Homo sapiens: one gene and its partners. The protein of the gene in region 1 purifies or fractionates together with the protein of each later gene. This does not show direct contact. Each region holds a gene or a part of one and is shown in the gene's direction. Other genes may lie near its edges. The genes, in order: ZNF746, HADHA, WASF1, RAI14, NOC3L, GCN1 and PC.

Region 1 (3,500 bases):
CAATACCATGTTCAGGGAGCCCACAGTGTAGGTGTGGGTAGGAAATTATTGTGTAGGGTGATAAGCACCGTGATAAGGGTCTGCATTGTGCTGCAGAGGCCTGGAGTAAAGGCACCCACCCAGACATAGACCTAACATACCCAAGCAGGTGATGGCCAACCTGAGATCTGGCATGTGGTATAGGATAGCCCCACTTGTCCACACATATGGACTCCCAGCCCAACTCCCCCGTGCCTAGGGAGAGAGGGGCTCAATGAAGACAGTGGATGGAATGAGTGATGCCAGTTTCTCTTTTGTTTCTGAAAGATTTCTCCGTGGACGATGGCAGCCACGATTCAGGCCATGGAGAGGAAGATTGAATCGCAGGCTGCTCGCCTGCTTTCCCTAGAAGGTCGAACCGGGATGGCCGAGAAGAAGCTGGCTGATTGCGAGAAGACAGCCGTGGAGTTCGGGAACCAGCTGGAGGGCAAGTGGGCCGTGCTGGGGACCCTGCTGCAGGAGTACGGGCTGCTGCAGAGGCGGCTGGAGAACGTGGAGAACCTGCTGCGCAACAGGAACTTCTGGATCCTGCGGCTGCCCCCGGGCAGCAAGGGGGAGTCCCCTAAGGTAGCCCTGGGACGCCTTGGGGTGTGGGAGCCCAAGCGGCCAAACCCGTGAGCGTGTGGGTGAGCGAGTGTGACACTTGTGGTTCCAGGTGCCCGTGACCTTTGATGATGTGGCCGTGTATTTCTCCGAGCAGGAGTGGGGCAAGCTGGAGGACTGGCAGAAGGAGCTCTACAAGCACGTGATGAGGGGCAACTACGAGACGCTGGTCTCCCTGGGTAAGGCCTGACACTCATTTCTCTGTTAAATGGGATTTTGCAAGTCCTCAGAATTCTCCCTCCACATAGTTGTTTTCATGTCAGTGTTATATAAATCACCAGAAACATTGTTGACCTTGCAAGTTGTTACCTTTTGTGAAGGATGAGCCCTGGGTGATGGAGTTAAAAGCTCCCTTCTCCCTGTGTTGAGTTTCCCAGAATGCCAGTCTGGGAACGGCGGTGGCTTCTCTCCTACGCAGGCCCGGGATGTGGACCTTTCTGTTCTTGCTGACTTGGAGCGGGGAAGGCCCCATCTGCTCTCAGATCCAGTATGTAATTGACTCACATTTGAGAAAGACTCTTTCCTTCAGCCTTCTCCTACAAACATGCGTGGCCCTTACGGCAACATGCCTCGAGGTCAGTGGAGAACATGGGCAGACGGTGCTGCTTGCAGCAGACATTTTCTTCATGCCTCAAAACTTTGCTTCCCTCAGCCCCTGGGGCTACTGCTCTTCTCCTTGTTTAATCCTGCCCAGGAAGGGCCTGGACTCTGTTTCTTCCTGGGCTGGTTTTCTCTTCCTAATGGTTTCTGTGTGACCCCGGAGCCGAGGGCAGTGAGACCTGTTAGAGAGGGCAGGAGCAGGTGCAGACGTGAGGTTGTTTCGTCAGCACAAGTGCACTGCTGTTTAACGTGCACGCTCTGTGGCAGTTTCTTCACCCCGGCACTGTGGACATTTGGGACCAGGTGATTCTGTGTGTCGGCGGCATCCTCTGCATTGTAGGATGTTGAGCAGCAGCCCTGGCCTCTCAGGGCATCTCCAGATGCCAGTCACCTCTCCCCCAGCCCTGGGCATGACAACCAGAATTGTCTCCAGACTTTGCCAGATGCCCCCAGGGAGCAAAATTGCCTGTGGTTGAGAGCTACTGCTTTGTGACAATCAAGAGATTTCATTTCTAGACCATTGTTGGTTTTCCGGGATGACTGTCCCCAGCTTTGACTGGAACGTGGCAAAAACTAACCTTCTGTCTTTCCTCAGACTACGCCATCTCCAAGCCCGAGGTCCTCTCCCAGATTGAACAAGGGAAGGAGCCCTGCAACTGGCGCCGCCCTGGCCCCAAGATTCCAGATGTTCCTGTGGACCCCAGTCCAGGTAAGGGCTGGGAGAAGGCCAGGGAGGCATCAGGTATTGTGCAGGAAACAGAGACGGAAAGGCCAGAAAGGGTGTGATCTTTCCAGAGAGAGTCGAGGAGAAACATGAAACTTACAGGTTTTATGTCTTGAGTTTTTTATAGTTGAGTTTTAATCTCTAACTTAGTCAGCTAATGCTCCAGAAATGAACACTTTCTGTCAGGGAAACAGGTGGCAAACCTAATCTTTTAGGAAGAGACAAAGGCAGGGCACAGGTTGAGGGGAGGGAGAGGAGAACGCTGAGAGGGAAGGCAGGAGCATAGTTGACCCTTAACGCAGGGGCCAGGGGCACCAGCCCCCAGTCCCACGCAGCCAAAAATCTATGTATAACTTTTGACTCTCTAAAAAGTTAACTGCTAGTAGTCTCCTATTAACCAGAAGCCTTATTGATACTATGAACAGTCAATAACACATATTTTGTATGTTCTGTGTGTTACATAGTGATACTTACAATAAGCTAGGGAAAAGAAAATGTTACTAGGAAAATCATAAGGAAGAGAAAATATATTTATTACTCATTAAGTGGAAGTGGAGCATCATAAAGGTCATCCTCCTCATTGTCTTCTTCAGATTGAGTAGGCTGAGGAGAAAGAGGAGTGGTTGGTCTAGCTGTCTCAGGGGTGACAGAAGCAGAAGAAAATCCATTTATAAGTGGGCCTGCATAGTTCAAACCCATGTTGTTCAAGGTCAGCTGTATATTGACAACAAAATTAATCCAAAGCTTTGCAAAGAGTCAGCCTTGCCTCCAAGAACCAACCTTAATTTAAACCAGTAGCAGTTGTAGAGCTACTTTGGTCTACATTGGTCAGCCTTATGGTTTGGTATTATTAGAAGCACACATTTATTTAAGGTGAATCTTGTTACCAGATATCAGCGTCTCAGATTTCCCTGGAGCCAGTCAGCACCTTTGAAAGTTAAGGGAAGGACAGGTGGACACAGGAGAAAAACCAAATTCCTAAAGTGAAGACCTGCTGGGTCATTTGACTAGGGAGACCACATCTCTGCAAGGCTCGACCCCTGATTCCTCCAGAAGACCCGCCCTTGACCGTCCCACCTGCCTTGGTTTTCCCTTTCGTCTGACACTGAGAAAGGTGGTGGTCCGCAGAGGCCCTCCTGTGCGCCACTTGTGTGAAATTAAATGCATCCCCCATGTTCGTCATCTCATCTCAGTCAGATTTGCACTTTCCTAAGGGCAGAAGCATGTTCCGGGCTGGCCGCTTTGCCAGTCGTCATCGGGACATTGACAGTTTAGCTCTACAGATGCATTTTTAAGAATCTTCTAGGCGTCAAGGACAGTGCTGAACACTAGAGGACAGAAAGATGGCTGAGAACAGATACTATTGGGCTGGAAAAGAGGGTTACAACCCGTGCGCGTCCCCAGCTTCCTAGCCTGGGTGGGAGGTTCTGGGTGGGTGGGTTTCGTTGTATTTACACCATGTGTGGAGGCTTCCCTCACTTCCACAGCATCATTCAATGAGAGTAAAGAGGGGCTGGAAATACGCTGGTTGCTG
Region 2 (3,500 bases), on another chromosome or scaffold:
GTCACCCAGCCTGGAGTGCAATGGTGCGCTCTTGGCTCACTGCAACCTCCGCCTCCCGGGTTCAAGTGATTCTCCTGTCTCAGCCTCCAGAGTAGCTGGGATTACAGGCTCCTGCCACCACGCCCAGCTAACTTTTTTTTTGTTTTTTTTTTTTTGTTGTTGTTGTTGTATTTTTAGTAGAGACGGGGTTTCGCCATGTCAGCCAGGCTGGTCTCTAACTCCCGACCTCAGGTGATCCAGCCACCTCAGCCTCCCAAAGTGCTGGGATTACAGGCGTGAGCCACCGCGCCCGGCCATAGATTGTGTATTTTTAAATTTGATTCTCACTTCCTTAATCTCGTCGCTTCTCCCAGTGTTGAATCTTGAGAAAAGCTGTTGATTATTACAACCAAAGTAATGTTTTCAAATTTGAAATTTATGTTAGCATAATCCAGCTCTCTTCGCTGACTGTAGTCTTATGAGGTTTTGTAGTTATTCTTGGGTTACATTACAAAGATGATTAAAAAGTGGGGCAAAGGTTTCTCTCTACTTTGCTGGCACAGTAGATGTAGGCTAAAGTTCACTCAGCTGCCATAGGGTAAGCTCTGCAGTTAGGTAGTGAGTAAGGCTAGACTCCAAAAGCAAAGCTACCTTGCAGTGTGACTTGATTTGGTTGACTCTGGTTTGGAATTATTTTCGAAGTATGTTCATGTATATACTGGTTTTCTATTTGTTTCTATTTGTCTTGATCTTGGAGAGGTTTTGTGTATGAGTGTGTGGGCAGCATAGGTAGGTTAGTGGACAGGAGTTAAAATGGTTTAAACTGTTGGCTAATGACCACTAACCTGTTATCTCAAATATTTGATCTTTAAAACTGCAACCCAGTGGGGCATAGTGGCACATGCCTGTAATCCTAGCTACTCCGGAAGATTACTTGAGCCCAGGAGTTCAAGACCAGCCTGGGCAACATAGGGAGACCTCGTCTCAAAGAAAAAAAATGTTTTTGAAATATTGCAACCCATGCTCACTCTATTTCCTTTTTTTGCTTAGGTGCTTATTTTCTAACATATTTGTGTTTCTTGGTTTTTCCCTCTCAACCTGCATTCCCAATCAGTTCATTCCCACTCTAATCCACTTTACCCTGTTTTGCTAGAATTACCTATCCCCTTCTTCCCTTCCCACTGGAATTTCTACTTTGCAGGAAAACTTTTTCTATGCCAGGCCTATTTTCACTTTTCATTTATCTTCACTGAGTAGGAACTGATTCTTCCCAGATATCATATCCCCTGCTGACCTGGAATGTAAGCTCCACCAAGACAGGGATTTTTGTCTTTTTTGTTCACCCTGAATGTCCTGCTGTACTCCAAGTGCCTAGAACAGTGAATGGCACATGGAGGTCACAATATATGTTTTTGTTGAATGAATAACAGATTATGTTGGAAAAGATTACAATGTGGTTGGTGAAACACCTGCTACAGATGCAGCAGTTAGAGGACAGAACATTAAATAATAAAATAAAAATGCAGGCAAGGAAAGGAAGGATCACTGTAGACAGAATCCGAAGATGAGGTTTTGTGGAAAAGAGTGGAGTCATGATGCAAATATAAAGAAGGAAGAGTGGTAAATACAGATGACACAGATTTCAAATGATGGAAAAGCAAAGCAGGAAACATACTATTAGTCAAGTAGAGGCACTGGGGATTGAGGAGATGGCTGGCTTCTCCCATCTTAAAACACTGAAGTTCACTTGTAAGAGACTTGTTCACAGTCACACAGCTAGTAAATAAACCTGATGGTTGAACACAAGTCCTTTGCCTTTGCACTAAGTCGGCTGGCTTGGATTGCTTAAAGAAGAAATGCAGGCAGAACCTGAAATCACCCCATTCTGCTTCTGGTGCTAACCACAGTTTTCTTTCTTTTTTTTTTTTTAATGTGTCACCTTGCCTTTCCAACCAGTATAAAGCTGCTATTTTTTGTGCCTTCTCTTCCCTTTCCATAAGGAACTGGGGGATAAAGAGAAAATACGGAGGCAGCAAGAGCCTTGGCAACCTACTGATGATCCTCCCCTATTCCACTCCACCTTCACTGGGTTCTCCAGTCAGTAGTTCCCATGTGCCTCTTACATTGCTATCTCTTTGGTTCTCTTTGCTTCCCTCTTCCCTTTTGTGATTACACTGGGCCCACCTGGATAATCCATGATAAACTTTCTTTATTAAGGCCAACTGATTAGCAACTTTAATCCCCCCTTTGCCGTGTAACCTAACATATTCACAGGTTCTGGGGATGTATATCCCTTTGTGGGGGCCAGTCTTCCTCTTTTAGTATCCAAATAATCATCTGACCTAACAACTGAAATGGAAAAAATATGGCAGTAGTCATATGGCCTAGAATACATTGTACAGATTTGGGGTTTTTGTTGTTGTTATTATTGTAAATTACAGCTTTGTTATATATAAAAGGTACTACAGAAATTGTTTCGCAAATTAATTTTGAAATGTCTTTTCTTACAGGTTATATATGCCGCAATTTTACAGGGTCTTCTGCTTTGCTGAGTAAGTTTAATTTCTTTTTAATGTGTATGCTTACATTGCTTTTTGGATTTATGTTGCAATAAATATGTTTACAAATAAATCTTTCTTTTCTTTTTAGCCAGAACCCATATTAACTATGGAGTCAAAGGGGATGTGGCAGTTGTTCGAATTAACTCTCCCAATTCAAAGGTATCTCATTTAATTTGCAGTTTTTTTCTGCTAACCGCATTATGAATCTAGTCCTGAATGGGAAAGATGTATCCCATATTTCCCCAAATCTACCAATCTGGCAGTAATCTTACATGAATTTACAGTTTTGACAGTTATGTTAAACTTTGACAGATTGCCAAGGGAGCCAGTTTTCTAAAGCAGAGGTTCTTGCGTAAGAATTCCTCTTGTTGACCTTAGGTGCCACCAGCCTCCTGGTTATAGTGTAGAATGAGGAGGTGACTTATTAGAGAAGAACCAGAGTACAAGCTTTGTTTATAAGACTCAAAATTTGCCTACCCATCTTAAATATGAGGTTGTTAATCCATTTTCTTCATTACTTGCCTGACATAAGTCACTATTCATAGTAAGTTGGCTGAGTGAAATGTGGATACTTGGCTCTTAAGCTTCCTGAGGGATCTGAATGACTCAATGCAATTCACATATTGGAAATCAAGTTCTGTTCGAATTGAAACTTCTTTTGTTTTTGGCAGCTTCAATAAAGTGTGTAACAGTAATCCATTCTTTTGCCAAGAAGAGCTTTATTGTGAGAGTCCATGCTTTTCCCCCATCTAAATTTGGTGTATTCTTACTTTAAAAATCTTGTAGCCAGGCTGGGCACTGTGGCTCACACCTATAATCCCAACACTGGATGGCCGAGGCAGGAGGATCACTTCAGCCCAGGAGTTTGAGACCACCCTGGGCAACATAGCAAGACCTTGTCTCTATAAAAAATAAAAAATAGTTGGGTATGGTGATGTTCACCTGTAGTGCTAGCTACTC
Region 3 (3,500 bases), on another chromosome or scaffold:
GTTTGATTCCTTTACCAAAAAAGTCAAGTGTGTTATGTTTTCACCTTATGCTACAAAAGTAAGTTTGTTTTCTAGTTGTTTTAATAGGGACATCTTGCTAAATTTGTTAAATTTGCTAAATTTTTATAACATGCATGTGCTACAGGTTATGCCAGAGAATTGTGAAAGGGTTAAACGAAAAGGGAGGAACAGTGAAGCATTTTATATTTTAGTCGAGGATGAAGACTAGCACTCACTTCTTAAAATTATTTTTATAGATTTAGAGGGTACACGTACAGTTTAGTTACATGGATATATTGCATAGTGGCAAAGCCTGGCTTTTTAGTATAGTGTACATTGTACCCATTAAGTAATTTCTCACCCCTCACCCACCATCTATCCTTCCACTCTTCAGAGTCTCCATTATCTATTATTCCACTCTTTATGTCCATGTATACAAATTATTTAGCTCCCACTTATAAATGAGAAAATATGGTATTTGACTTTCTGTTTCTGAGTTAGTTCACTTAGGATAATGGCCTCTGGTTCCATCCATGTTGCTGCAAAAGAGATTATTTCATTCTTTTTAATGGCTGAGTAGTATTTCATTGTTTGCATTTAAATTTTCTTTAATTATCCATTGATGGACACTTAGGTTGATTCCATATCTTTGCTATTTTGAATAGTGGCACTGATTTTTTTTTAAACCAAAATAAAAGCCCTGTGTGGTACATCATAATACACAACTACAAATTTATCAATTTTGTTATTTTCAAGGAATCTTCATTTAGTTTCATTGTTTTTTTCTCTTGATTTCCTGTTTTCAATTTCATAGATTTCTGCCTTAATTATTCCATGGTGTATATGTGCCACATTTGCTTAATCCAGTCTGTCATTGATGGACATTTGGGTTGGTTCCAAGTCTTTGCTATTGTGAATGGTGTCGCAATAAACATACGTGTGCATTTGTCTTTATAGTAGCATGATTTGTAATCCTTTGGGTATATACCCAGTAATGGGATTGCTGAGTCAAATGGTAATTCTAGTTCTAGATCCTTGAGGAATCGCCACACTGTCTTCCACAATGGTTGAACTAATTTACACTCCCACCAACAGTGTAAAAGCGTTCCTATTTCTCCACATTCTCTCCAGCATCTGTTGTTTCCTGACTTTTTAATGATTGTCATTCTAACTGGCGTGAGATGATATCTCATTGTGGTTTTGATTTGCATTTCTTTAGTGACCAGTGGTGATGAGCATTTTTTCATGTGTCTGTTGGCTGCATAGACGTCTTCTTTTGAGAAGTGTCTGTTCATATCCTTTGGCCACTTTTTGATGGAGTTGTTTGTTTTTTTCTTGTAAATTTGTTTGAGTTCTTTGTAGATTCTGAATATTAGCCCTTTGTCAGAAGGGTAGATTGCAAAAATTTTCTCCCATTCTGTAGGTTGCCTGTTCGCTCTGATGGTAGTTTCTTTTGCAGTGCAGAAGCTCTTTAGTTTAATTAGATCCCATTTGTCTTATTTTGGCTTTTGTTGCCATTGCTTTTGGTGTATTAGTCATGAAGTCCTTGCCCATGCCCGTGTCCTGAATGGTATTGCCTAGGTTTTCTTCTAGGGTTTTTATGGTTTTATAGATCCTTCTACTTTTCTAATACAGACTTCATGATATTTTCAACTTAAAATAGGTTTATTGGGATACAACCCCGTTATAAACTGCGGACCGTCTGTATATATACTTGGTGCCATAAATTTCCCTCCAAGCACTGCTTTTGATGTATCCCACACATTTTGATAAATTGAATTTTCATTTTCACTTAATACAAAGTATTAAAAAATTTCTCTTGAGACTTTGAACCATGTGTTATTTAGAAGTGTGATGTTTAATCTCCAAATGTTTTGAGATTTTCCCATCTATCTTTCTGAGATTGCTTTCTGGTTTAATTGCATTGTGGTCTGAGAGCATATACTGTATTAGTTCTGTTCTTTTAAATTTTTTCAGGTGTGTTTTATGGCCCAGAATATAGTCTGTCTCAGTGAATGACTTATGTGAGCTTGAGAATAACATGTATTCTGCTGTTGTTGGTTGAAGTACTGTATAAATATCAGTTAGATCCAGTTGATTGATGGTATTTAGTTCAACTGTATTGTTACTGATTTTTTGCCTGTCAGTTAATTACCGATAGAAGGATGTTGATATCTCTAGCTGTGATCATGAGTTCATGTTTCCCCTTGTAGTTTTATCAGTTTTTGCTTCACATTTTGATGCTCTGTTAGGTGCATATACATTAAGAATCATTAGGTCTTGGAGAATTTGCCCCTTTATCGTAATGCAATGCCTATCTTTATCCCTGTTAATTTCCCTCGCTCAGAAACCTACTTTGTCTCAAATTGATACAGCTACTTCAGATTTGTTTTGACTCGTGTTAGCATGGTATATCTTTCTCCATTTCTTTACTTTTAATCTATTTCTACATTTAAAGTGGGTTTCTTGTATACAATATATAGTTAGGTCTTTTTTTTTTAATCTACTCTGTCTCTTATCTTTTAATTGGCATATTTAGACCATTCACATTTAAAGTGATTATTGACATAATTGTATTAAAATCTACTGTATTTGCAACTTTTTTTATTCATTGCACTTGTTCTTTGTTTCATTAAAAAGAAAAAGTTGGCTGGGCTGGTGGCTCACACCTGTAATCCCAACACTTTAGGAGGCTGAGTCAGGCCAATCACTTGAGCCCAGAAGTTTGACACCAGCCTGGGCAACACAGTGAAACCTTGTCTCTACAAAAAAATACAGAAATTAGCCAGGTGTGGTCACATGCACCTGTAGTCCCAGCTACTTGGGAGGCTGAGGTAGTAGGATCACTTGAGCCTGGGAGGCGGAGTTTGCAGTGAGCCAAGATTGCACCACTATACTCCGGTCTGAGTGATGGAAGGAACCTCTGTTTCACCCCCTCCACCCCCAAAAAATGTCCTCTCTTTTTCTGCTCTGACTTTAATTGAGCACTTTGTATGGTTTCCTTTTCTCTCCTCTCTTAGCATATCAATTATACTTCTTTCTCTTTAAAATGTTTTGTAAGTGGTTGTCCTAGTTTGCCTCTCTTTTTGTATGATTACCGAGGAGAAGTCCAATCTAATTTTTATCCTTGTCCCTCTATAGGTAAAGTGGTTTCTCTCTGTCTTTCAAAATTTTTCTTTGTCTTTGGTTTTCTGCAGTTTGAACATCACATGCCTAGGTGTAGATTTTCTGGTATTTATCGTGGTTGATGATCTCTGAGCTTCATGGATTTGCTGTTTGGTTTCTTAATTTTGGAAACATTTTGAGCACCTGTATATGCTAGGCATTGTACTAAATATCTTACGTATTTGATTTAATCCTCACAACAACCCTGTGAAGAAGTATGATTCTCATTATTTGTGGTGGAAACTAAGTTTTAAGTATAGACCACTACAGAATTTTTTTACAATAGTCACTAAAATTTAACTGCCTTGGGCTTACCCCTGACTTAAGCTTCCTCT
Region 4 (3,500 bases), on another chromosome or scaffold:
ACGTAGAATCTCCCAACTTTGAAGACCATTACTAGGCTATTTTAACTTCACCAGGCTACTTTGAGAATAAATTTATATACCTATCACATGGTTCTGTCATGGGGTTATATTTCATGTTGCAGCATGAGAACTGACATGCATACACTTATATTTGATGGAGATGCTGTGAAGTGACTAGATAGAATCTGTAAATAAATTCATATTCCTTGAAGTTCAGTACTTCCTAAGCAGAAAGTAGTATAACTTCACAGAGATAGTGCCCAGAAATCTATCTGAAATTCTTTATGACAATACTCAATCTTTAAGTAGCACTTGTATTTTTAAATAGTTGGATATATTGTAACATCTTTTCCCTTTGCCTATTGAATGCTTCTACCTTAAAACTCACTGTCGATGGATTTATAGGGTATATTCCAGAAAAAAAACAAAATAACAACTTCTCTTTATGGTTTGTGTCAGACCTAAGATTACAAAAAATACTTATGTATATTCTTCTAGTATTTTTCATCATTTGTTTTATATTGTAATGTTTAAATGCTTAATCCACCTGACATAGTTTGTATATGAGTTGGAGACCTAGATTTCCTTTTTCCCAAAGGGGTTGCAATTGTCATGACATAATTATTCTTTCTATCCATTTCTTTATCTAGTCATGTGTTAGTAACAGACATAGGCTCTTAATTTATGTTATATTTTGATACATAGCAAGATTACTAAAGGGTACACTTTCGGTAAAAGTGGAATGGCAGGATATATAATGATTAGTGCACTGGGAATAAGCTGCCTACAGGGCAGTGGGATCTTCTGGTGTCGTGCGGAGACACGCCCTTCCTTTCTCCAGCACCGTCCCTCAGTATACCCGGTACACTTGCCTTGAGCCTTTACACACTTTGTGTTCTGTCCTCTCTCACAGTCACCCAAACAGTGATAGCCAAGGGCATAAGCAGCCGCAAGAAGCTGGAGCTCCTATGTAAAAGCTAGCATTCAGTAAAATTCCATAACAAGAGTTGTGCCAACATACAATCGTGACTCTATAGGGGTACAGAATATCAGGTTGGACCAGATACTAGATCAGCAGTCAGCAGTCCAAGTCAGGAGAAAAATGTGCAAAAAACAGGGGCTGACTTTTGCAATTCTGGCATTTTGTGCCTGAGGTAAAATCTAAATCTGAATTTGTCTCCTAGGATGGGAATATACCGCTGCTTCTTGCTGTACAAAATGGTCACAGTGAGATCTGTCACTTTCTCCTGGATCATGGAGCAGATGTCAATTCCAGGAACAAAAGTGGAAGGTACTCCAGAATTAGGCAGAAATCATGTGACTTCAGTGATACCCACATTCTGAGAGTATTTCAAAATATCACAGCTATATTTTGGATCATTTGTTATAAGGGATTTTTAACTTCTTACCTTTTTAAAGTTCTACTGTTTCTGATAATCAAGAATCTATGTTGACTTTAAAGCAATTTTCCCCAGACATCTGTGGACATCATTGCTGGCTAAGTCTGTGAGGAGACTATTAAATGCTAATGTGAATAAACAATTTCCTGTGACTTTCTATGCAAAATAAAACAAACCTATTGGTTGTTTTGGAGAAATGGTCTTAGAAATATATATGTTATTTAAAATGCTTGAGGTAAAACAAGGATAAGATTCATGCCAGTCATATTAAATCCCATCATATTATGCCAAATAGTATAGAAGATTGTGTTGTTTGACAAAATGTGGTTTAATGTTTTGATTTAATCTGAAGTTTAAAAAAAAAAAAAACCACCTAATTTCATCTTGATTGCATTCCACTTCGAATTCCCTGAAGATTAAGTGTAATAAAGGTTTAACTGCACTTAATCTTCTTTTCTCTTTTTTTAAGACAACTGATTTCCCAAGAAAGACTTTTTACATTCTCTTAGTACTAATTTTGTGTCTCTTTTTTCCTTTAGAACTGCTCTCATGCTGGCCTGTGAGATTGGCAGCTCTAACGCTGTGGAAGCCTTAATTAAAAAGGGTGCAGACCTAAACCTTGTAGATTCTCTTGGATACAATGCCTTACATTATTCCAAACTCTCAGAAAATGCAGGAATTCAAAGCCTTCTATTATCAAAAATCTCTCAGGATGCTGGTATGTAAAAGAAAATAGCCAATGTTGTTTTAAGTTTATCCACTCCATTTTCCCCAAAGGATAAAGGAATGTGTGCAATATGATATATTTTATTATTCTTTTAAACATATTCTTGAAAAAAAAAGGAGTGTTAAAAAATATTGTATATGGTGTATGTGTGTGTATCCCCCCACCCAAAGTGAATATGAATCATTATGCTTCTTATAGTTCTTTTTTTCACTTTTTCCTCTATAGATTTAAAGACCCCAACAAAACCAAAGCAGGTATTTATCTTTGGGGGAGGCTTCTATGTTTCATTTATGCTTGTGGGAATTTAAAAATGTTCAGATTTAACCACTCTGGTCCACTAGTAAAGTAATAAAGACTATATTGAAAATACTTAGGGACTGAAATATCTTTGAATAAATAAGTCATTGTTATAAGGTGTTAAAGGTTGCCAGGCCGGGCCGGTGGCTCACGCCTGTAATCCCAGCACTTTGGGAGGCCGAGGCTGGTGGATCACCTGAGGTCGGGAGTTCAAGACCACCCTGACCAACATGGAGAAACCCCGCCTCTACTAATATTACAATATTAGCCGGGCATGGTGGTGCGTGCCTGTAATCCCAGCTGCTCGGGAGGCTGAGGCAGGAGAATCACTTGAACCCAGGAGGCAGAGGTTGCGGTGAGCTGAGATTGCACGATTGCACTCCATCCTGGGCAACAAGAGTGAAACTCCGTCTCAAAAAAAAAAGGTGGTAAAGCTTTCCTTAATAATTTGCTTTATTTCAAAAGCATGTAACTTTAAACTTGCTACTTATATGTTCATCTTTTTCTGAAATGTACTAACTCATACTTCCTATTGGTGTGAAAATGTTTGATGTGGCTTAAACTCTGTGACTGAATAACACTGTTTTAAATACTTGTAATATCACATGAGCTACAGAGCTTCAGCCAGAAAATGTTAGCTATTTAATGAAAATAAGAGAATTTAGCCTTTTCTTTTAATTAGGGTTTTTCTAGAACGTCATGTGGTGTTACACAAAGTAGAAATTGAGTTTGCCCTGTTATTGTGTAGTTTTTTCTAAAAATATATTGTCACTATCTGTTTTTTTGATGAACAGTATATGTTTGGTTGTTTATTTATTTACACATCTACGTTCTTGAAGAAATCATAAACAGCAAATACTCAATACTAAATTTATGTGCTAACTGTATTACTTACCAGTAACCTTCAAAAATGAAGTTATCCCTTTCCCTCATATTTATAGTCTTTAAAAAAAGGAATGGAAGTAATGCAGACGTGTGGGAAATACCATTGCTTTTCATTAATACAGAAAGCTGGCTGTGATTGTATTCTGGATTCTAAGTTGTAGTAGACCTCAACCTCTACTTTCCCAGTTCTC
Region 5 (3,500 bases), on another chromosome or scaffold:
ATGTCACTCATAAGGTCTTTTATTCTTCTAAGATTTACATAGATCAAAGACTTCTTGCTAATATTGAAGAGATGTCCTGACTTTAACCTACTTCAGTGTCTACTATAGTATATGGAGTAACTCTCAAATTTAGCAGCTCATATGATTCTTCTTTAACCCTATTGGGTGGTCTCAGTTATTTCTACAAATAGAGGCCCAGGACAGTGAAGTGAGTTACCTAGGATCACGCAGGTAATTAAGAGCAGAGCCTGAACTAGATACTGGGGTCCAGTATTCTTTCCATTTTATCCTTAAAGCTGTCATAAGGTCCATATTCTTGTAAGTAGCAGAATCTTTCCTTGTCTCTCTTCCCACCACCTGTTTTCTTAGAAGCCGATCCTGCCGGATACCTCCTAAACTTTCCTCAGGAAGTTGTTTGCTTCTAGTAATTTCTTTCTCAGTGCAGAAGGATTTTTGAAATATTTTTGGTTTGTTCAGTGCCTTATATATTTCTACTGAGTTTAGTGTTCAATGGTGTATGAATTGTTGAAGAGGCCAATCTGAATTAATGAAAAGTATCAATAATTGCCATGTCTTTCATAGCTAACATTTCGAAATAAAGAATATTAAAAATACAGTTTTAAAGTCAAGCTTAATTTCTACCAGCTTTATTTCTGCTTTTAGTTCACTGATTAACTGTTTTGTTTGATTCCAGGTTTGCTCACCTTATAAATGTGGAATTTTTTGATGATCTGTTAGTAGTTCTTCATACTCTCATTGAGTCTGGTGTAAGTAATAATAAATTATTTTTTAAAAGATATAAATGGTAATTACTATTTTAAAAATTTTTCAGGTTTATTGAGATATATTTTGTATACAGTAAAACCCCTTTTAGATGTACAGTTTATGAATTTTGACAAAGGCCTATGATCATATGATTACCACCACAGTCAAGATGTAGAACGTTTTCAACCATTGGAGAGTTTTAAGCAGGAGGGTTGTCTGACCTGTTTTCTTTTTTTTTTTTTTAAATTGATGCATAATAGATGTACATGGTTTCAGGGTATATGTGATAATTAAATATATTCATATAATATAGTTTGTAAATATTTTACTTGGGATATCAGTCACCTTAAATATGTGTCTTTATGTGACAACCATTCAAATTCTTCCCTCCTAGCTATTTTGAAATAGATAATAGATTATTGTAAACTATAGTCACCCTGTAAATCTGCCTCATACTAGGTTATCTTAAAGATAACCTTTATAGGTCTTTTTTTTCTTTTTTGAGATAGGGTCTCACTCAGTTGCCCAGGCCGGAGTGCAGTGGTGCAATCACAGCTCACTGCAGCCTTGACCTTCCAGGGCTCAGGTGATCCTCCCACTTTAGCCTTTTGAGTAGCTGGGACTACAGATGTGGGGCACCATACCTGGCTAATTTTTCTATTTTTTTGTAGAAATTTTTTTTTTTTTTTTTTTTGAGAGGGAGTCTTGCTCTGTCACCCAGGCTGGAGTGCAGTGGCGTGATCTCGGCTCACTGCAAGCTCCGCCTCCCGGGTTCACACCATTCTCCTGCCTCAGCCTCCCGAGTAGCTGGGACTACAGGCGCCCACCACCATGCCCGGTTAATTTTTTGTATTTTTAGTAGAGACAGGGTTTCACCGTGTTAGCCAGGATGGTCTTGATCTCCTGACCTCGTGATCTGCCCGCCTCGGCCTCCTGAAGTGCTGGGATTGCAGGCGTGAGCCACCGCGCCCGGCCCTGAGAGATGGGTTTTTGCCATGTTGCCCAAGCTGGTCTTGAACTCCTGGGCTCAAATGATCTGCCTGCCTCAGCCTCCCAAATTGCTGGGATTACAGGCTTGAGTCTTTGCTCCTGGCCTTAAAGTTCTTTTTTAAAGCTATAAATGGCAATTACCATTCTTAATATTCCATCCCCCTCACCCCCCCCTTTTTTTTTTAAAGGACCTAAGCTATCAAGAAAGTCTTCACTGTGTCCAGACTGCTTTTCATATTCTTTCTGGACAAGGTATGATATTTTCTTAATCAAGTTTTGTTTGCCTTACCTTTGAATGCTATAACATACCTAATTGGTGTTTGTTGTCATTTCAAAGGTGATGTTCTGAATATTGATCCATTGAAATTCTACACACATCTCTACAAAACACTGTTCAAATTACATGCAGGTATGTATGTTTAGATAATGTTTCTTTTATATGTATTTATGTTTTAAGAATATGTTATGACCCATCATTGTAGACAAATGAGAAATAGGAACAGGTACATAAAATGGTGACTTTCCAGTGCCATGCATCTGTATTTAATCTTATGTAAGACTTGGAGAAAGAGCTTCTGGAATTGACTGGAGATGCAGTAAGTATAGCCCGCTGTATCTCCTTAGCAGTATAGCACTACCTCATTGATTAGAGAAATGGTTTGGGACAGGTACAAAAGTTTATCTTGGGTTTATCTGAAGTTCAGTCCAGTTGCGTAATGAAAAAGTAATGAGAACAGCTCTGAAGAATATGTCTGCTGTTTTAGGTGCTACCAATGAAGGTGTTGAGATTGTACTCCAGTGCCTTGATGTCATGCTAACTAAGCGCAGAAAGCAAGTTTCTCAGCAGCGAGCTCTTGCCTTCATCAAACGCCTTTGTACCCTTGCTCTTCATGTTCTTCCAAATTCAAGTATTGGCATTTTAGCAACTACCAGAATATTAATGCATGTAAGTAGTGATACAAATGAACAGAGCTAAGTTCTTATAATGCAATGATTTTTTTTGTTTGAGGCATGTCTTTTCCCCCCTTTTATATTATTTCAATTACAGAAGTAATTCACACTTGTAACAAAATCAGGTGACAAAAGAGGTATATAAAATTGAAAAAAAGCATTTTATACCTATTGACACTTCTCAGTGTCATTAGGTGGGTATCCATTTACCATTTGGTGGGTATTTTTCCAGCAGCCTTTTAAAGTTCATATATAAACACATACACATAGAAACAACTCAACTTTGTATTTTAATGGAAAGAGGATTATGCTATATATTCTACCACTTTTTTAACCTTAGCATTTAATCATGGTAAACACATTATAATGTCACTACTCTCTTTATGTAAGGTTTATTTAATTCTTTGCTTAACAAACACCATAGTTCTGACTATGTGCCTTCCAGTTATAAATGCCTTACAAAAATTTAATTTTCATAACTCTGAGGTAGCTACTATTCTTGTTCCTATTGTACATGTGGGAAAACTGAGGTCCAGAGAGGTTAAGTGTCTTGGCTTGAGTAGCAGTGCCAGTCAGTGGTAGAAGTGATATTCAAATGTAGGCAGTCTGGTTTTTCTGCTTCTTTCTATTTCTCTTGATATAGGTTATTTCTTTTTTTGCTATTACAAATGATGCTATAGTGAATATCTTTATGTATTTATCTGATGTAATTATTTCTATCAGATTTCTAAAAGTGTGATTGCAAGGTGAGAAGCATATTTTTTTCTTTTGCAAGATAAAATTAATTTTCAAAG
Region 6 (3,500 bases), on another chromosome or scaffold:
TCACTGCCCTGGGGGTAGAGCGGCGGAACCGGGTGTTGGCAGGGCTGTACATGGGCCGCTCAGACACCCAGCTGGTGGTGCGGCAGGCGTCCCTGCATGTCTGGAAGATTGTTGTCTCCAATACCCCCCGCACCTTGCGTGAGATCCTACCCACTCTCTTTGGGCTCCTGCTGGGTTTCCTGGCCAGCACGTGTGCAGATAAGAGAACGGTGAGTTTCCTGGGCCTTGTTTTGGACCAGCAGCCCCAGTGCCTCCTTTCAGAGCCTAGAAGGCTGGGTCTGCAGAGCCTGGGAAAGTACCCATCCACCCTGCCTAACAGAGGGACATTGTGTTCTTTACTTAGTCATTCTGCAAATATTTTTTGATTAATTTTATTTTATTTATTTTTTTGAGGTGGAGTCTTGCTCTGTCGCCCAGGCTGAAGTGCAGTGGCGTGATCTCAGCTCACTGCAAGCTCCGCCTCCTAGGTTCATGCCATTCTCCTGCCTCAGCCTCCCGAGTAGCTGGGACTACAGGCATCCACCACCACACCTGGCCATTTTTTTATATTTTTAGTAGAGACGGGGTTTCAGCACGTTAGCCAGGACGGTCTCGATCTCCTGACCTCGTGATGCGCCCGTCTCGGCCTCCCAAAGTGCTGGGATTACAGGCTTGAGCCACCACGCCTGGCCTCTGCAAATATTTATTAGCATCTCCTGTGCACTAAGCAGGGGCCTAGCACCTGGGGACACAATGGAGAAGAAAGGCAGCTTCATTCCTTATCCTCATGAGAGGTAGTCTAGTCGAGGAGATGGATATTAATCAAATAACCACACAAAGAGATGTAAAATGCGACTGTGGCCAGTGCTGCATGGCACTGCAAATGCTTATAATAGCTGCATTTGACCTGCTGGGGAGGGATGGGCCTGTGTTAGTGAACACTTCTCAGAAGAAATGATGCTGGAAGATGAAAGATAAGTAAGCACTAACCAGGTGAGGAGGTGGCGAAAGACCATTCCAGACAGAGGGAATAAATAATGTTTCAGATACAAAGACAGGATATGCAGAGGTCCCGTGGTGGGCAGGAACATAGCACCAGTAGGGGCTGAGCAAGGCCAGTGTGGCTGGAGTGAGGAGGCAGGGAGGAGCAGTGCGGCATGAGATCAGGCTGGCGCGCTGGCAGGGGCAGACAGATCAGTGGGCCTGGAGGAGGTGCCCAGATGGGCTGGTGATCATTTCTGCCCATCTCCTTTGGTCTACTTCCAACCCCCCATCCTTGGCAAGCAAATTGTGTATTTGGCTCTAAAGAAGGGTTTGCATGAGGTCTCAGAAAGTAGATGTTTTTTTTTCCTTAAAGCTTTGTTCCAGATTCGGCTCCTGCTCAGCCATAGCACAGTGTTAAGGCTTCAGTCATCCAGGGAAATTGGCCCTTGACTGTGCAGCAGATGATGAATTTTTTGTACATGTGTAAGGTGCTGCTGGCTCTTAATGTTAGGTTGTGTAGGTGTGTGTGAAACAGATAATTTTTTGGTAGTGTTTTGCAAGCACTACAGAGAGTATTTGGGGGCTCTTTAGGGGTAAGAGCATTTGGGGAAGTTAAGTCAGTGATTCAGATAAAGCCTGGGAGGTTTCAGGGCCCTCATTCTGGAGTCCTCCTCTGGGTGCCCTGGGCTTTGCAGGGACTTTACTTCCTGGATTGGTCTCTGTTGACAGATTGCAGCGAGAACATTGGGAGATCTTGTGCGGAAGTTAGGGGAGAAAATCCTCCCCGAGATCATCCCCATCCTTGAGGAAGGCCTGAGGTCTCAGAAGAGCGATGAGAGGCAGGGTGTGTGCATTGGCCTAAGTGAGATCATGAAGTCCACCAGCCGGGATGCCGTGAGTATCTTCCAAGGATCCCGCCAGCTGTGCACTGCAGACGACCTGACTCAGAGGGCGGGGGAGGGCTACTGAAGGAGGTTCACCTCTAGGGGGTTTGTGCTGCCCTCAGGGATGAGCCAGTCTCACTCTGGGGAGGTGCTGGCTGGGCCACATGGACTTGAGGCTCCGTCTTCTCAGCTTTCCTGTCAGTTTTGCAGGCTAAGAGCTAAGTGATTTGGATGCCTCCTTGAGTGGCCTTTGGAAACTGGAGATGATCGCTCTCTTACAACTGTGGAGGTTGCTCAGGATCAGTCTCTTTTGTGATGCTATATAAGTCCAGTTAAAATGTGTGCACCTCCTTCTGGGAAAGGGGATGGACAGCTGTGTGAGTGGGTAGGGCAGGAGGGTGCGGGAGGGGGTGTGCACTCACCCTTAGCAGGAGGGGAGCAGGTAAGAGTTGTGGTGCCAGGTGGGAGGAAGCATATTGCGTCTGGCAACAATACTGTTTCCATAGCAGCAACGTTCAAGGGGTGTGAAGTCCATTACTCTTACTTGGTTCCTGAGTTAAATGATCCTGGAGACCACCCTGGGGAGTAGGTTAGGAGTGCTTTTAGGCACTGCCTTCGTGTTTGGATGAAAACGCCAAAGCAATTAAGTGGATGGCCCGCTAGAAATGTAAGCAAGTGGCCAGTTGCTTGGCTTGGGCATCCTTGTCTGAATTCCTAGGATACCAGATCCCTCTTCTCCTATATTGATGTTTGTCTTACGTTTGGTTTTTAAAATTTACATTTGGCAAGGAATCAAAAGAAATTCTGTCATCAGAAAGAGTTGTGATTCATTGGAGAGGTAGAGTTCCACAGAGGCTGAGTTCTTGTCTGCAAAGTCCCCACAGTCCAATGGCAAGGCCCACATGCCAACCAGTCATTAGAATGCAGAGTGGGCTTTGCTGTGCTGGGATCGTTACTGAGGGAGCAGAGCCATTATTGGCTCCATTGTAGACCCAAAGACTTCATAGAGCACAAAGTCTGGATTGAGACTTGAAGAAGGACTTGGAGTTTTCCAAGAGAATAAGCAAAAGAAAGAGTCCAGGGAGAGAGGGGGCCAGATGCCATGGGAAGGAGTTTGCAGTTCTTAGAGAAGATGGGAGGTATATTGAGAATTCACCTAAAAGATTCAAGCTGTTGATTATTAAGTCTCAGTGAAGGATACATGGGGGTGCATCACATCCTCTCTGCTTTTTTTTTTTATTGAGACGGGGTCTTACTCTGTCACCCAGGCTGGAGTGCAGTGGTGCGATCATAGCTCATTGTAACCTTGACCTTCTGGGCTCAAGTGATCCTCTCGCTATGGCCTCCTGAGTAGCTGGGGACTATAGGTGTGCACCACCACACGTAGCTAATTTTTGCATTTTTAGTAGAGGTGAGGTCTCACTATGTTGCCCAGGCTGGTCTCAAACTCCTGGCCTCAAGTGATTCTCTTGCCTCCACCTCCCAAAGTGTTGGGATTACAGGCGTGAGCCACTGTGCGCGGCCCCTCTCTACTTTTTAATTTTTTTAAAATTTTTAGTTTAAGACAATCTCACTCTGCTGCCCAGGCAGGAGTACAGGGGCACCATCTCTTTTGGCTACAGCCTCTGCTTCCTGGGTTCAAGCGATTCTTGT
Region 7 (3,500 bases), on another chromosome or scaffold:
GGCAGTGGGGAGTGAGTGTGGTGTGGACAGGGGAGGAGAGCAACAAAAATGACCTGTTTACCCACAAACCACGGGTAAGTGCCCCTGTGGTCGCAGGGTAAACCCACCCAGGTGGGAGGAAAGGACTGGGGCTCCCTGGAAAAAGCTTGAAACTGCCCTGGAGGTTTGAGAATCTCGGTGCCAGTGGGCTGCTGCCAGCTGTGAGGCTGCTCACCTATAGGCAGGCCAGCAGGTGAGGAGGGGGAGGGTGCTAGGCTCCTGGGAGACACATAGCCAAGTCCTCCCACCCAAGGAGTCGGTGTAGCAGGAGCTCCCTTCGCCTTTTCCTGCGGAGCTCTTCCTGTCCCTTCTGTATATTTCTTCTTTTTTTTCTAATTATAAATAACGCATCCCCAATGGAGAAAATATGGAAATTTTCCATATGGAAATATAGAAAAGCATAAAGAAGGAGGAAAACACAACTCTACAGCAATTCCATAGCACGTGGGAGTGAGGAGGGTGGCATGCAAGCAGTCCTACAGTTGTTGCCATTCCTTTAAAAAAACTTCATGAGATCATGTTGTTTACCATTAAATTTTCTTGGCTTCACATTACATCACAAGCATTTCCCATGTCATCAAAACCTGTGCAAACACATTATTGTTAATGGTTACATAATGTCTGTGGGAGCCAGGGTGTGGAATCTTTAAATTGCTTCTCATGATTTTCTGTTGTAAATAATGCTGCTTTGAACATCTTTCTGCGTACATCTTGGTTCCCATTTTGGAATATTTCCTGGGGTTGGATTTCTGGAATAGTAATGACTGGGCTCAGGGGCATAACCCGCCACCATGCCTAGCTAATTTTTTTGTATTTTTTAGTAGAGATGGGGTTTCACCGTGTTAGCCAGGATGGTCTCCATCTCCTGACCTCGTGATGCACCCGCCCTGGCCTCCCAAAGTGTTGGGATTACAGGCGTCAGCCACTGTGCCCGGCTTTTTTTGTTTTGTTTTGTTTTTGAGATGGAGTCTCGCTCTATCACCCAGGCTGGAATGCAATGGCGCGATCTCGGCTCACTGCAACTTCCGCCTCACAGGCTCAAGCAACTCTCCTGCCTCAGCCTCCCGAGTAGCTGGGACTATAGGCGCCCACTATCATGCTGGGCTAATTTTTGTACTTTTAGTAGAGACGGGGATTCACCATGTTGGCCAGGGTGGTTTTGAATTCGTGACCTCAAATGATCCGCCTGTCTCAGCGTCCCAAAGTGCTGGGATTACAGGCGTGAGCCACCGCGCCTGGCCGGGCATAAATACCTTAAAGGCTCTTGATAAGTTTTGCAAACAGCTTCCCGGAGAAGCTGCCGTGATGCTCAGCAGTGCCTGCGGGCCGCCTCCTGAAGGCCTTCCTGGCGCTCAGCACTGCATTTACAAAGCTCCCAGGCAGGAGTGGCACCTCATGGTTGTATTTTGAATCTCTTGCTTTCTCGTGGGTTCAAGAGCCACTTGTGTTTGCTGTCTTGTTGCTGTGCTTGTCCCGAAGGCTCCCCTCGCCTCTTCCTGACTTTGCCCTATGTGGTAACTTGAGCTCTTTTGACATGGCCTTTCCCAGCGCTCAGCAGAGTAGACATTTGGTGCCCAGGAGGAGGGTGAGATTTACACCCCACACCTGCTCTCTGATGCCAGTGCCGCCTGCTCCCAGCTGGGAAAGACCTGTCCTCCTAGTGGGCAGCATCCGATAACTCGCCTGGAGCAGGGCTTAGAGGATTGTAGATCTGCATGTGGGAGATAGCAGGGTGATAACGTCTGACGTTCATCCTGCTCTGAGCAGGGTGTCTCCACACCTGAGCTCCTCGCTGGTGCTCCCGGCACCTCTTGAGCAGCAGGTGCTGGGGCATGCACTCCCTAAGGTTATCTCCTCCAGCGGCATTAGCGGTGGGTATGGTTCTTTTCACTTGTCAATTTGAAATGATTTCAGACTTTCAGTAAAGTTGCAAGAGTAAGACAAAGAATTCTCGTACCCCTGACCCCAGTTCCCCCAATACTAGCATTTGCTTCATTGTTCCCGTTTTTCCCTGAACCATGTGAGTGGGTGTAAATTGCAGATGTGGTGCTCGTGGACCCTTGAGTTCCTCAGTGTTTTTCCCTAAGAATGAGGCTGTTCTCTAACATAACCACAGTCCACTGATCAAGATCAGGAAATTGATATCAACGCAATCCTCTTTCAAACCTGCAGACCTTATTTAAATTGTATCGTTGTCCCCTGATGTCCTCTTAGCAATAGAAACCCGGATCCAATCCAGGATCGTGTGTGGCTCTCACCATTGTTGCTTTGGTCTCCTTTCATCTGAAACCGTTCTTGCGTCTTTGTCTCTCACGACCTTTGACATGTTTGAAGAGTCCAAGCCAGTTATTCTGTGGAATTTCCCTGAATTTGAGTTTGCCCCTTGCTTTCTCCTGATTAAATTCAGGCCGTGCACGGCAGCGGGAACCCCATCAGGAGGTGTGTGGTATCCCTTCGGTGCTAGTGATATTAACCTTCATCTCTCGGTCAGCGTGGTGTCCGCCAGGTTTCTCCACTGTGCAATGAATAAGGACAAGGTATATTTTAGAAAGAGGAGGAGCCCAGAGTCCAGCAAGGTTACTCTACCCACGTTCACCATAGCCGGGTGTGACCTGGGTGCCTCCTGGTCACCGCAGTGGCCCCTTCCCAGCCCCCATCTTACCCTGCCTCTGGGAGTCATGCTCTGCCCAACTCGCGCCCCATCCTCCTGAGAGCCGCTCGCTTCTGCCCAGCGACCCGTGCGTCCCTCCCTCCTCCAGGCATCCCCCCTGGGCTCCTTCTTGGCTCTTCCTCCTCGGCCAGACTCAACTCCAGTGGGCCTGAAGACGCAGGCCTGACCCACTTCTCCCAGGCTGTTCTCTCCCTGGCTTCAGACACCACCGCCCCTGTGATGCTGCCCAGGTTCTTGTCCCTGCTCTTCCCCCTCTGTGAGCTTGCCTCACTCCCAGCCCTGCCTTTTCTGTCTTGCCCTTCTTATAGCAGGAAAAGTCATCTCCACCCACCCATACAGGATTTCTTCCTCTACCTTGCTTTCTATGGGGGGTCTCTCGACGAATCTTGTCTGTCATAGCCCAGATGTTTCCTAAGCCCCACCCCGACCCCCATAGCTTCCCCCTGTCAGAGGCTCCGCGTCTCTCAGCTCAGCCTCTGAATTGCCCCAGACATGCGTCGTCTGTCAGCCCCTGCTGCTCGCCAGTCCAGAGAGATCCTTTCCACTGTGCATCGATCATGTCCCTCCTGTCCTGTCCATGGCTGAAGGGAGGCCTCAACCACTGGGCCCTGTCTGTGGCTGCAGCCCCACCTCAGGCCGTGGGCTCACACTTCCCTCTCTCAGGACAGCACCAAGCCTGTTCTTCCTGAGAACTTCACAATTGCTATCCCTTCTTCCTGGAGCTTTCTCTGCGGATCTGTGCGTGGCCGACTTCTCCCCATCCAGGTCCCAGCTTCTGTGTCCCCTCCTC

What was found.
Region 2: the proteins of ZNF746 (region 1) and HADHA purify together in Homo sapiens (affinity purification with mass spectrometry, with the first as the bait; one large-scale study listed by BioGRID). This does not show direct contact.
Region 3: the proteins of ZNF746 (region 1) and WASF1 purify together in Homo sapiens (affinity purification with mass spectrometry, with the first as the bait; one large-scale study listed by BioGRID). This does not show direct contact.
Region 4: the proteins of ZNF746 (region 1) and RAI14 purify together in Homo sapiens (affinity purification with mass spectrometry, with the first as the bait; one large-scale study listed by BioGRID). This does not show direct contact.
Region 5: the proteins of ZNF746 (region 1) and NOC3L purify together in Homo sapiens (affinity purification with mass spectrometry, with the first as the bait; one large-scale study listed by BioGRID). This does not show direct contact.
Region 6: the proteins of ZNF746 (region 1) and GCN1 purify together in Homo sapiens (affinity purification with mass spectrometry, with the first as the bait; one large-scale study listed by BioGRID). This does not show direct contact.
Region 7: the proteins of ZNF746 (region 1) and PC purify together in Homo sapiens (affinity purification with mass spectrometry, with the first as the bait; one large-scale study listed by BioGRID). This does not show direct contact.

Annotation. Positions count from the first base shown.
Region 1 is NC_000007.14:149,491,310-149,494,809, reverse strand, and holds part of ZNF746 (zinc finger protein 746), read left to right. Parts: intron 1-306; coding exon 307-606; intron 607-694; coding exon 695-821; intron 822-1,837; coding exon 1,838-1,951; intron 1,952-3,500.
Region 2 is NC_000002.12:26,238,133-26,241,632, reverse strand, and holds part of HADHA (trifunctional enzyme subunit alpha, mitochondrial precursor), read left to right. Parts: intron 1-2,489; coding exon 2,490-2,531; intron 2,532-2,628; coding exon 2,629-2,699; intron 2,700-3,500. UniProt on the Homo sapiens protein: Mitochondrial trifunctional enzyme catalyzes the last three of the four reactions of the mitochondrial beta-oxidation pathway.
Region 3 is NC_000006.12:110,169,671-110,173,170, reverse strand, and holds part of WASF1 (actin-binding protein WASF1), read left to right. Parts: intron 1-3,500.
Region 4 is NC_000005.10:34,809,828-34,813,327, forward strand, and holds part of RAI14 (ankycorbin), read left to right. Parts: intron 1-1,184; coding exon 1,185-1,291; intron 1,292-1,939; coding exon 1,940-2,118; intron 2,119-2,352; coding exon 2,353-2,381; intron 2,382-3,500. UniProt on the Homo sapiens protein: Plays a role in actin regulation at the ectoplasmic specialization, a type of cell junction specific to testis. Important for establishment of sperm polarity and normal spermatid adhesion.
Region 5 is NC_000010.11:94,338,940-94,342,439, reverse strand, and holds part of NOC3L (nucleolar complex protein 3 homolog), read left to right. Parts: intron 1-694; coding exon 695-767; intron 768-1,943; coding exon 1,944-2,007; exon of another isoform or gene 2,008-2,012; intron 2,013-2,092; coding exon 2,093-2,164; intron 2,165-2,519; coding exon 2,520-2,701; intron 2,702-3,500. UniProt on the Homo sapiens protein: May be required for adipogenesis.
Region 6 is NC_000012.12:120,139,216-120,142,715, reverse strand, and holds part of GCN1 (stalled ribosome sensor GCN1), read left to right. Parts: coding exon 1-209; intron 210-1,692; coding exon 1,693-1,857; intron 1,858-3,500. UniProt on the Homo sapiens protein: Ribosome collision sensor that plays a key role in the RNF14-RNF25 translation quality control pathway, a pathway that takes place when a ribosome has stalled during translation, and which promotes ubiquitination and degradation of translation factors on stalled ribosomes.
Region 7 is NC_000011.10:66,874,884-66,878,383, reverse strand, and holds part of PC (pyruvate carboxylase, mitochondrial precursor), read left to right. Parts: exon of another isoform or gene 1-74; intron 75-3,500. UniProt on the Homo sapiens protein: Pyruvate carboxylase catalyzes a 2-step reaction, involving the ATP-dependent carboxylation of the covalently attached biotin in the first step and the transfer of the carboxyl group to pyruvate in the second.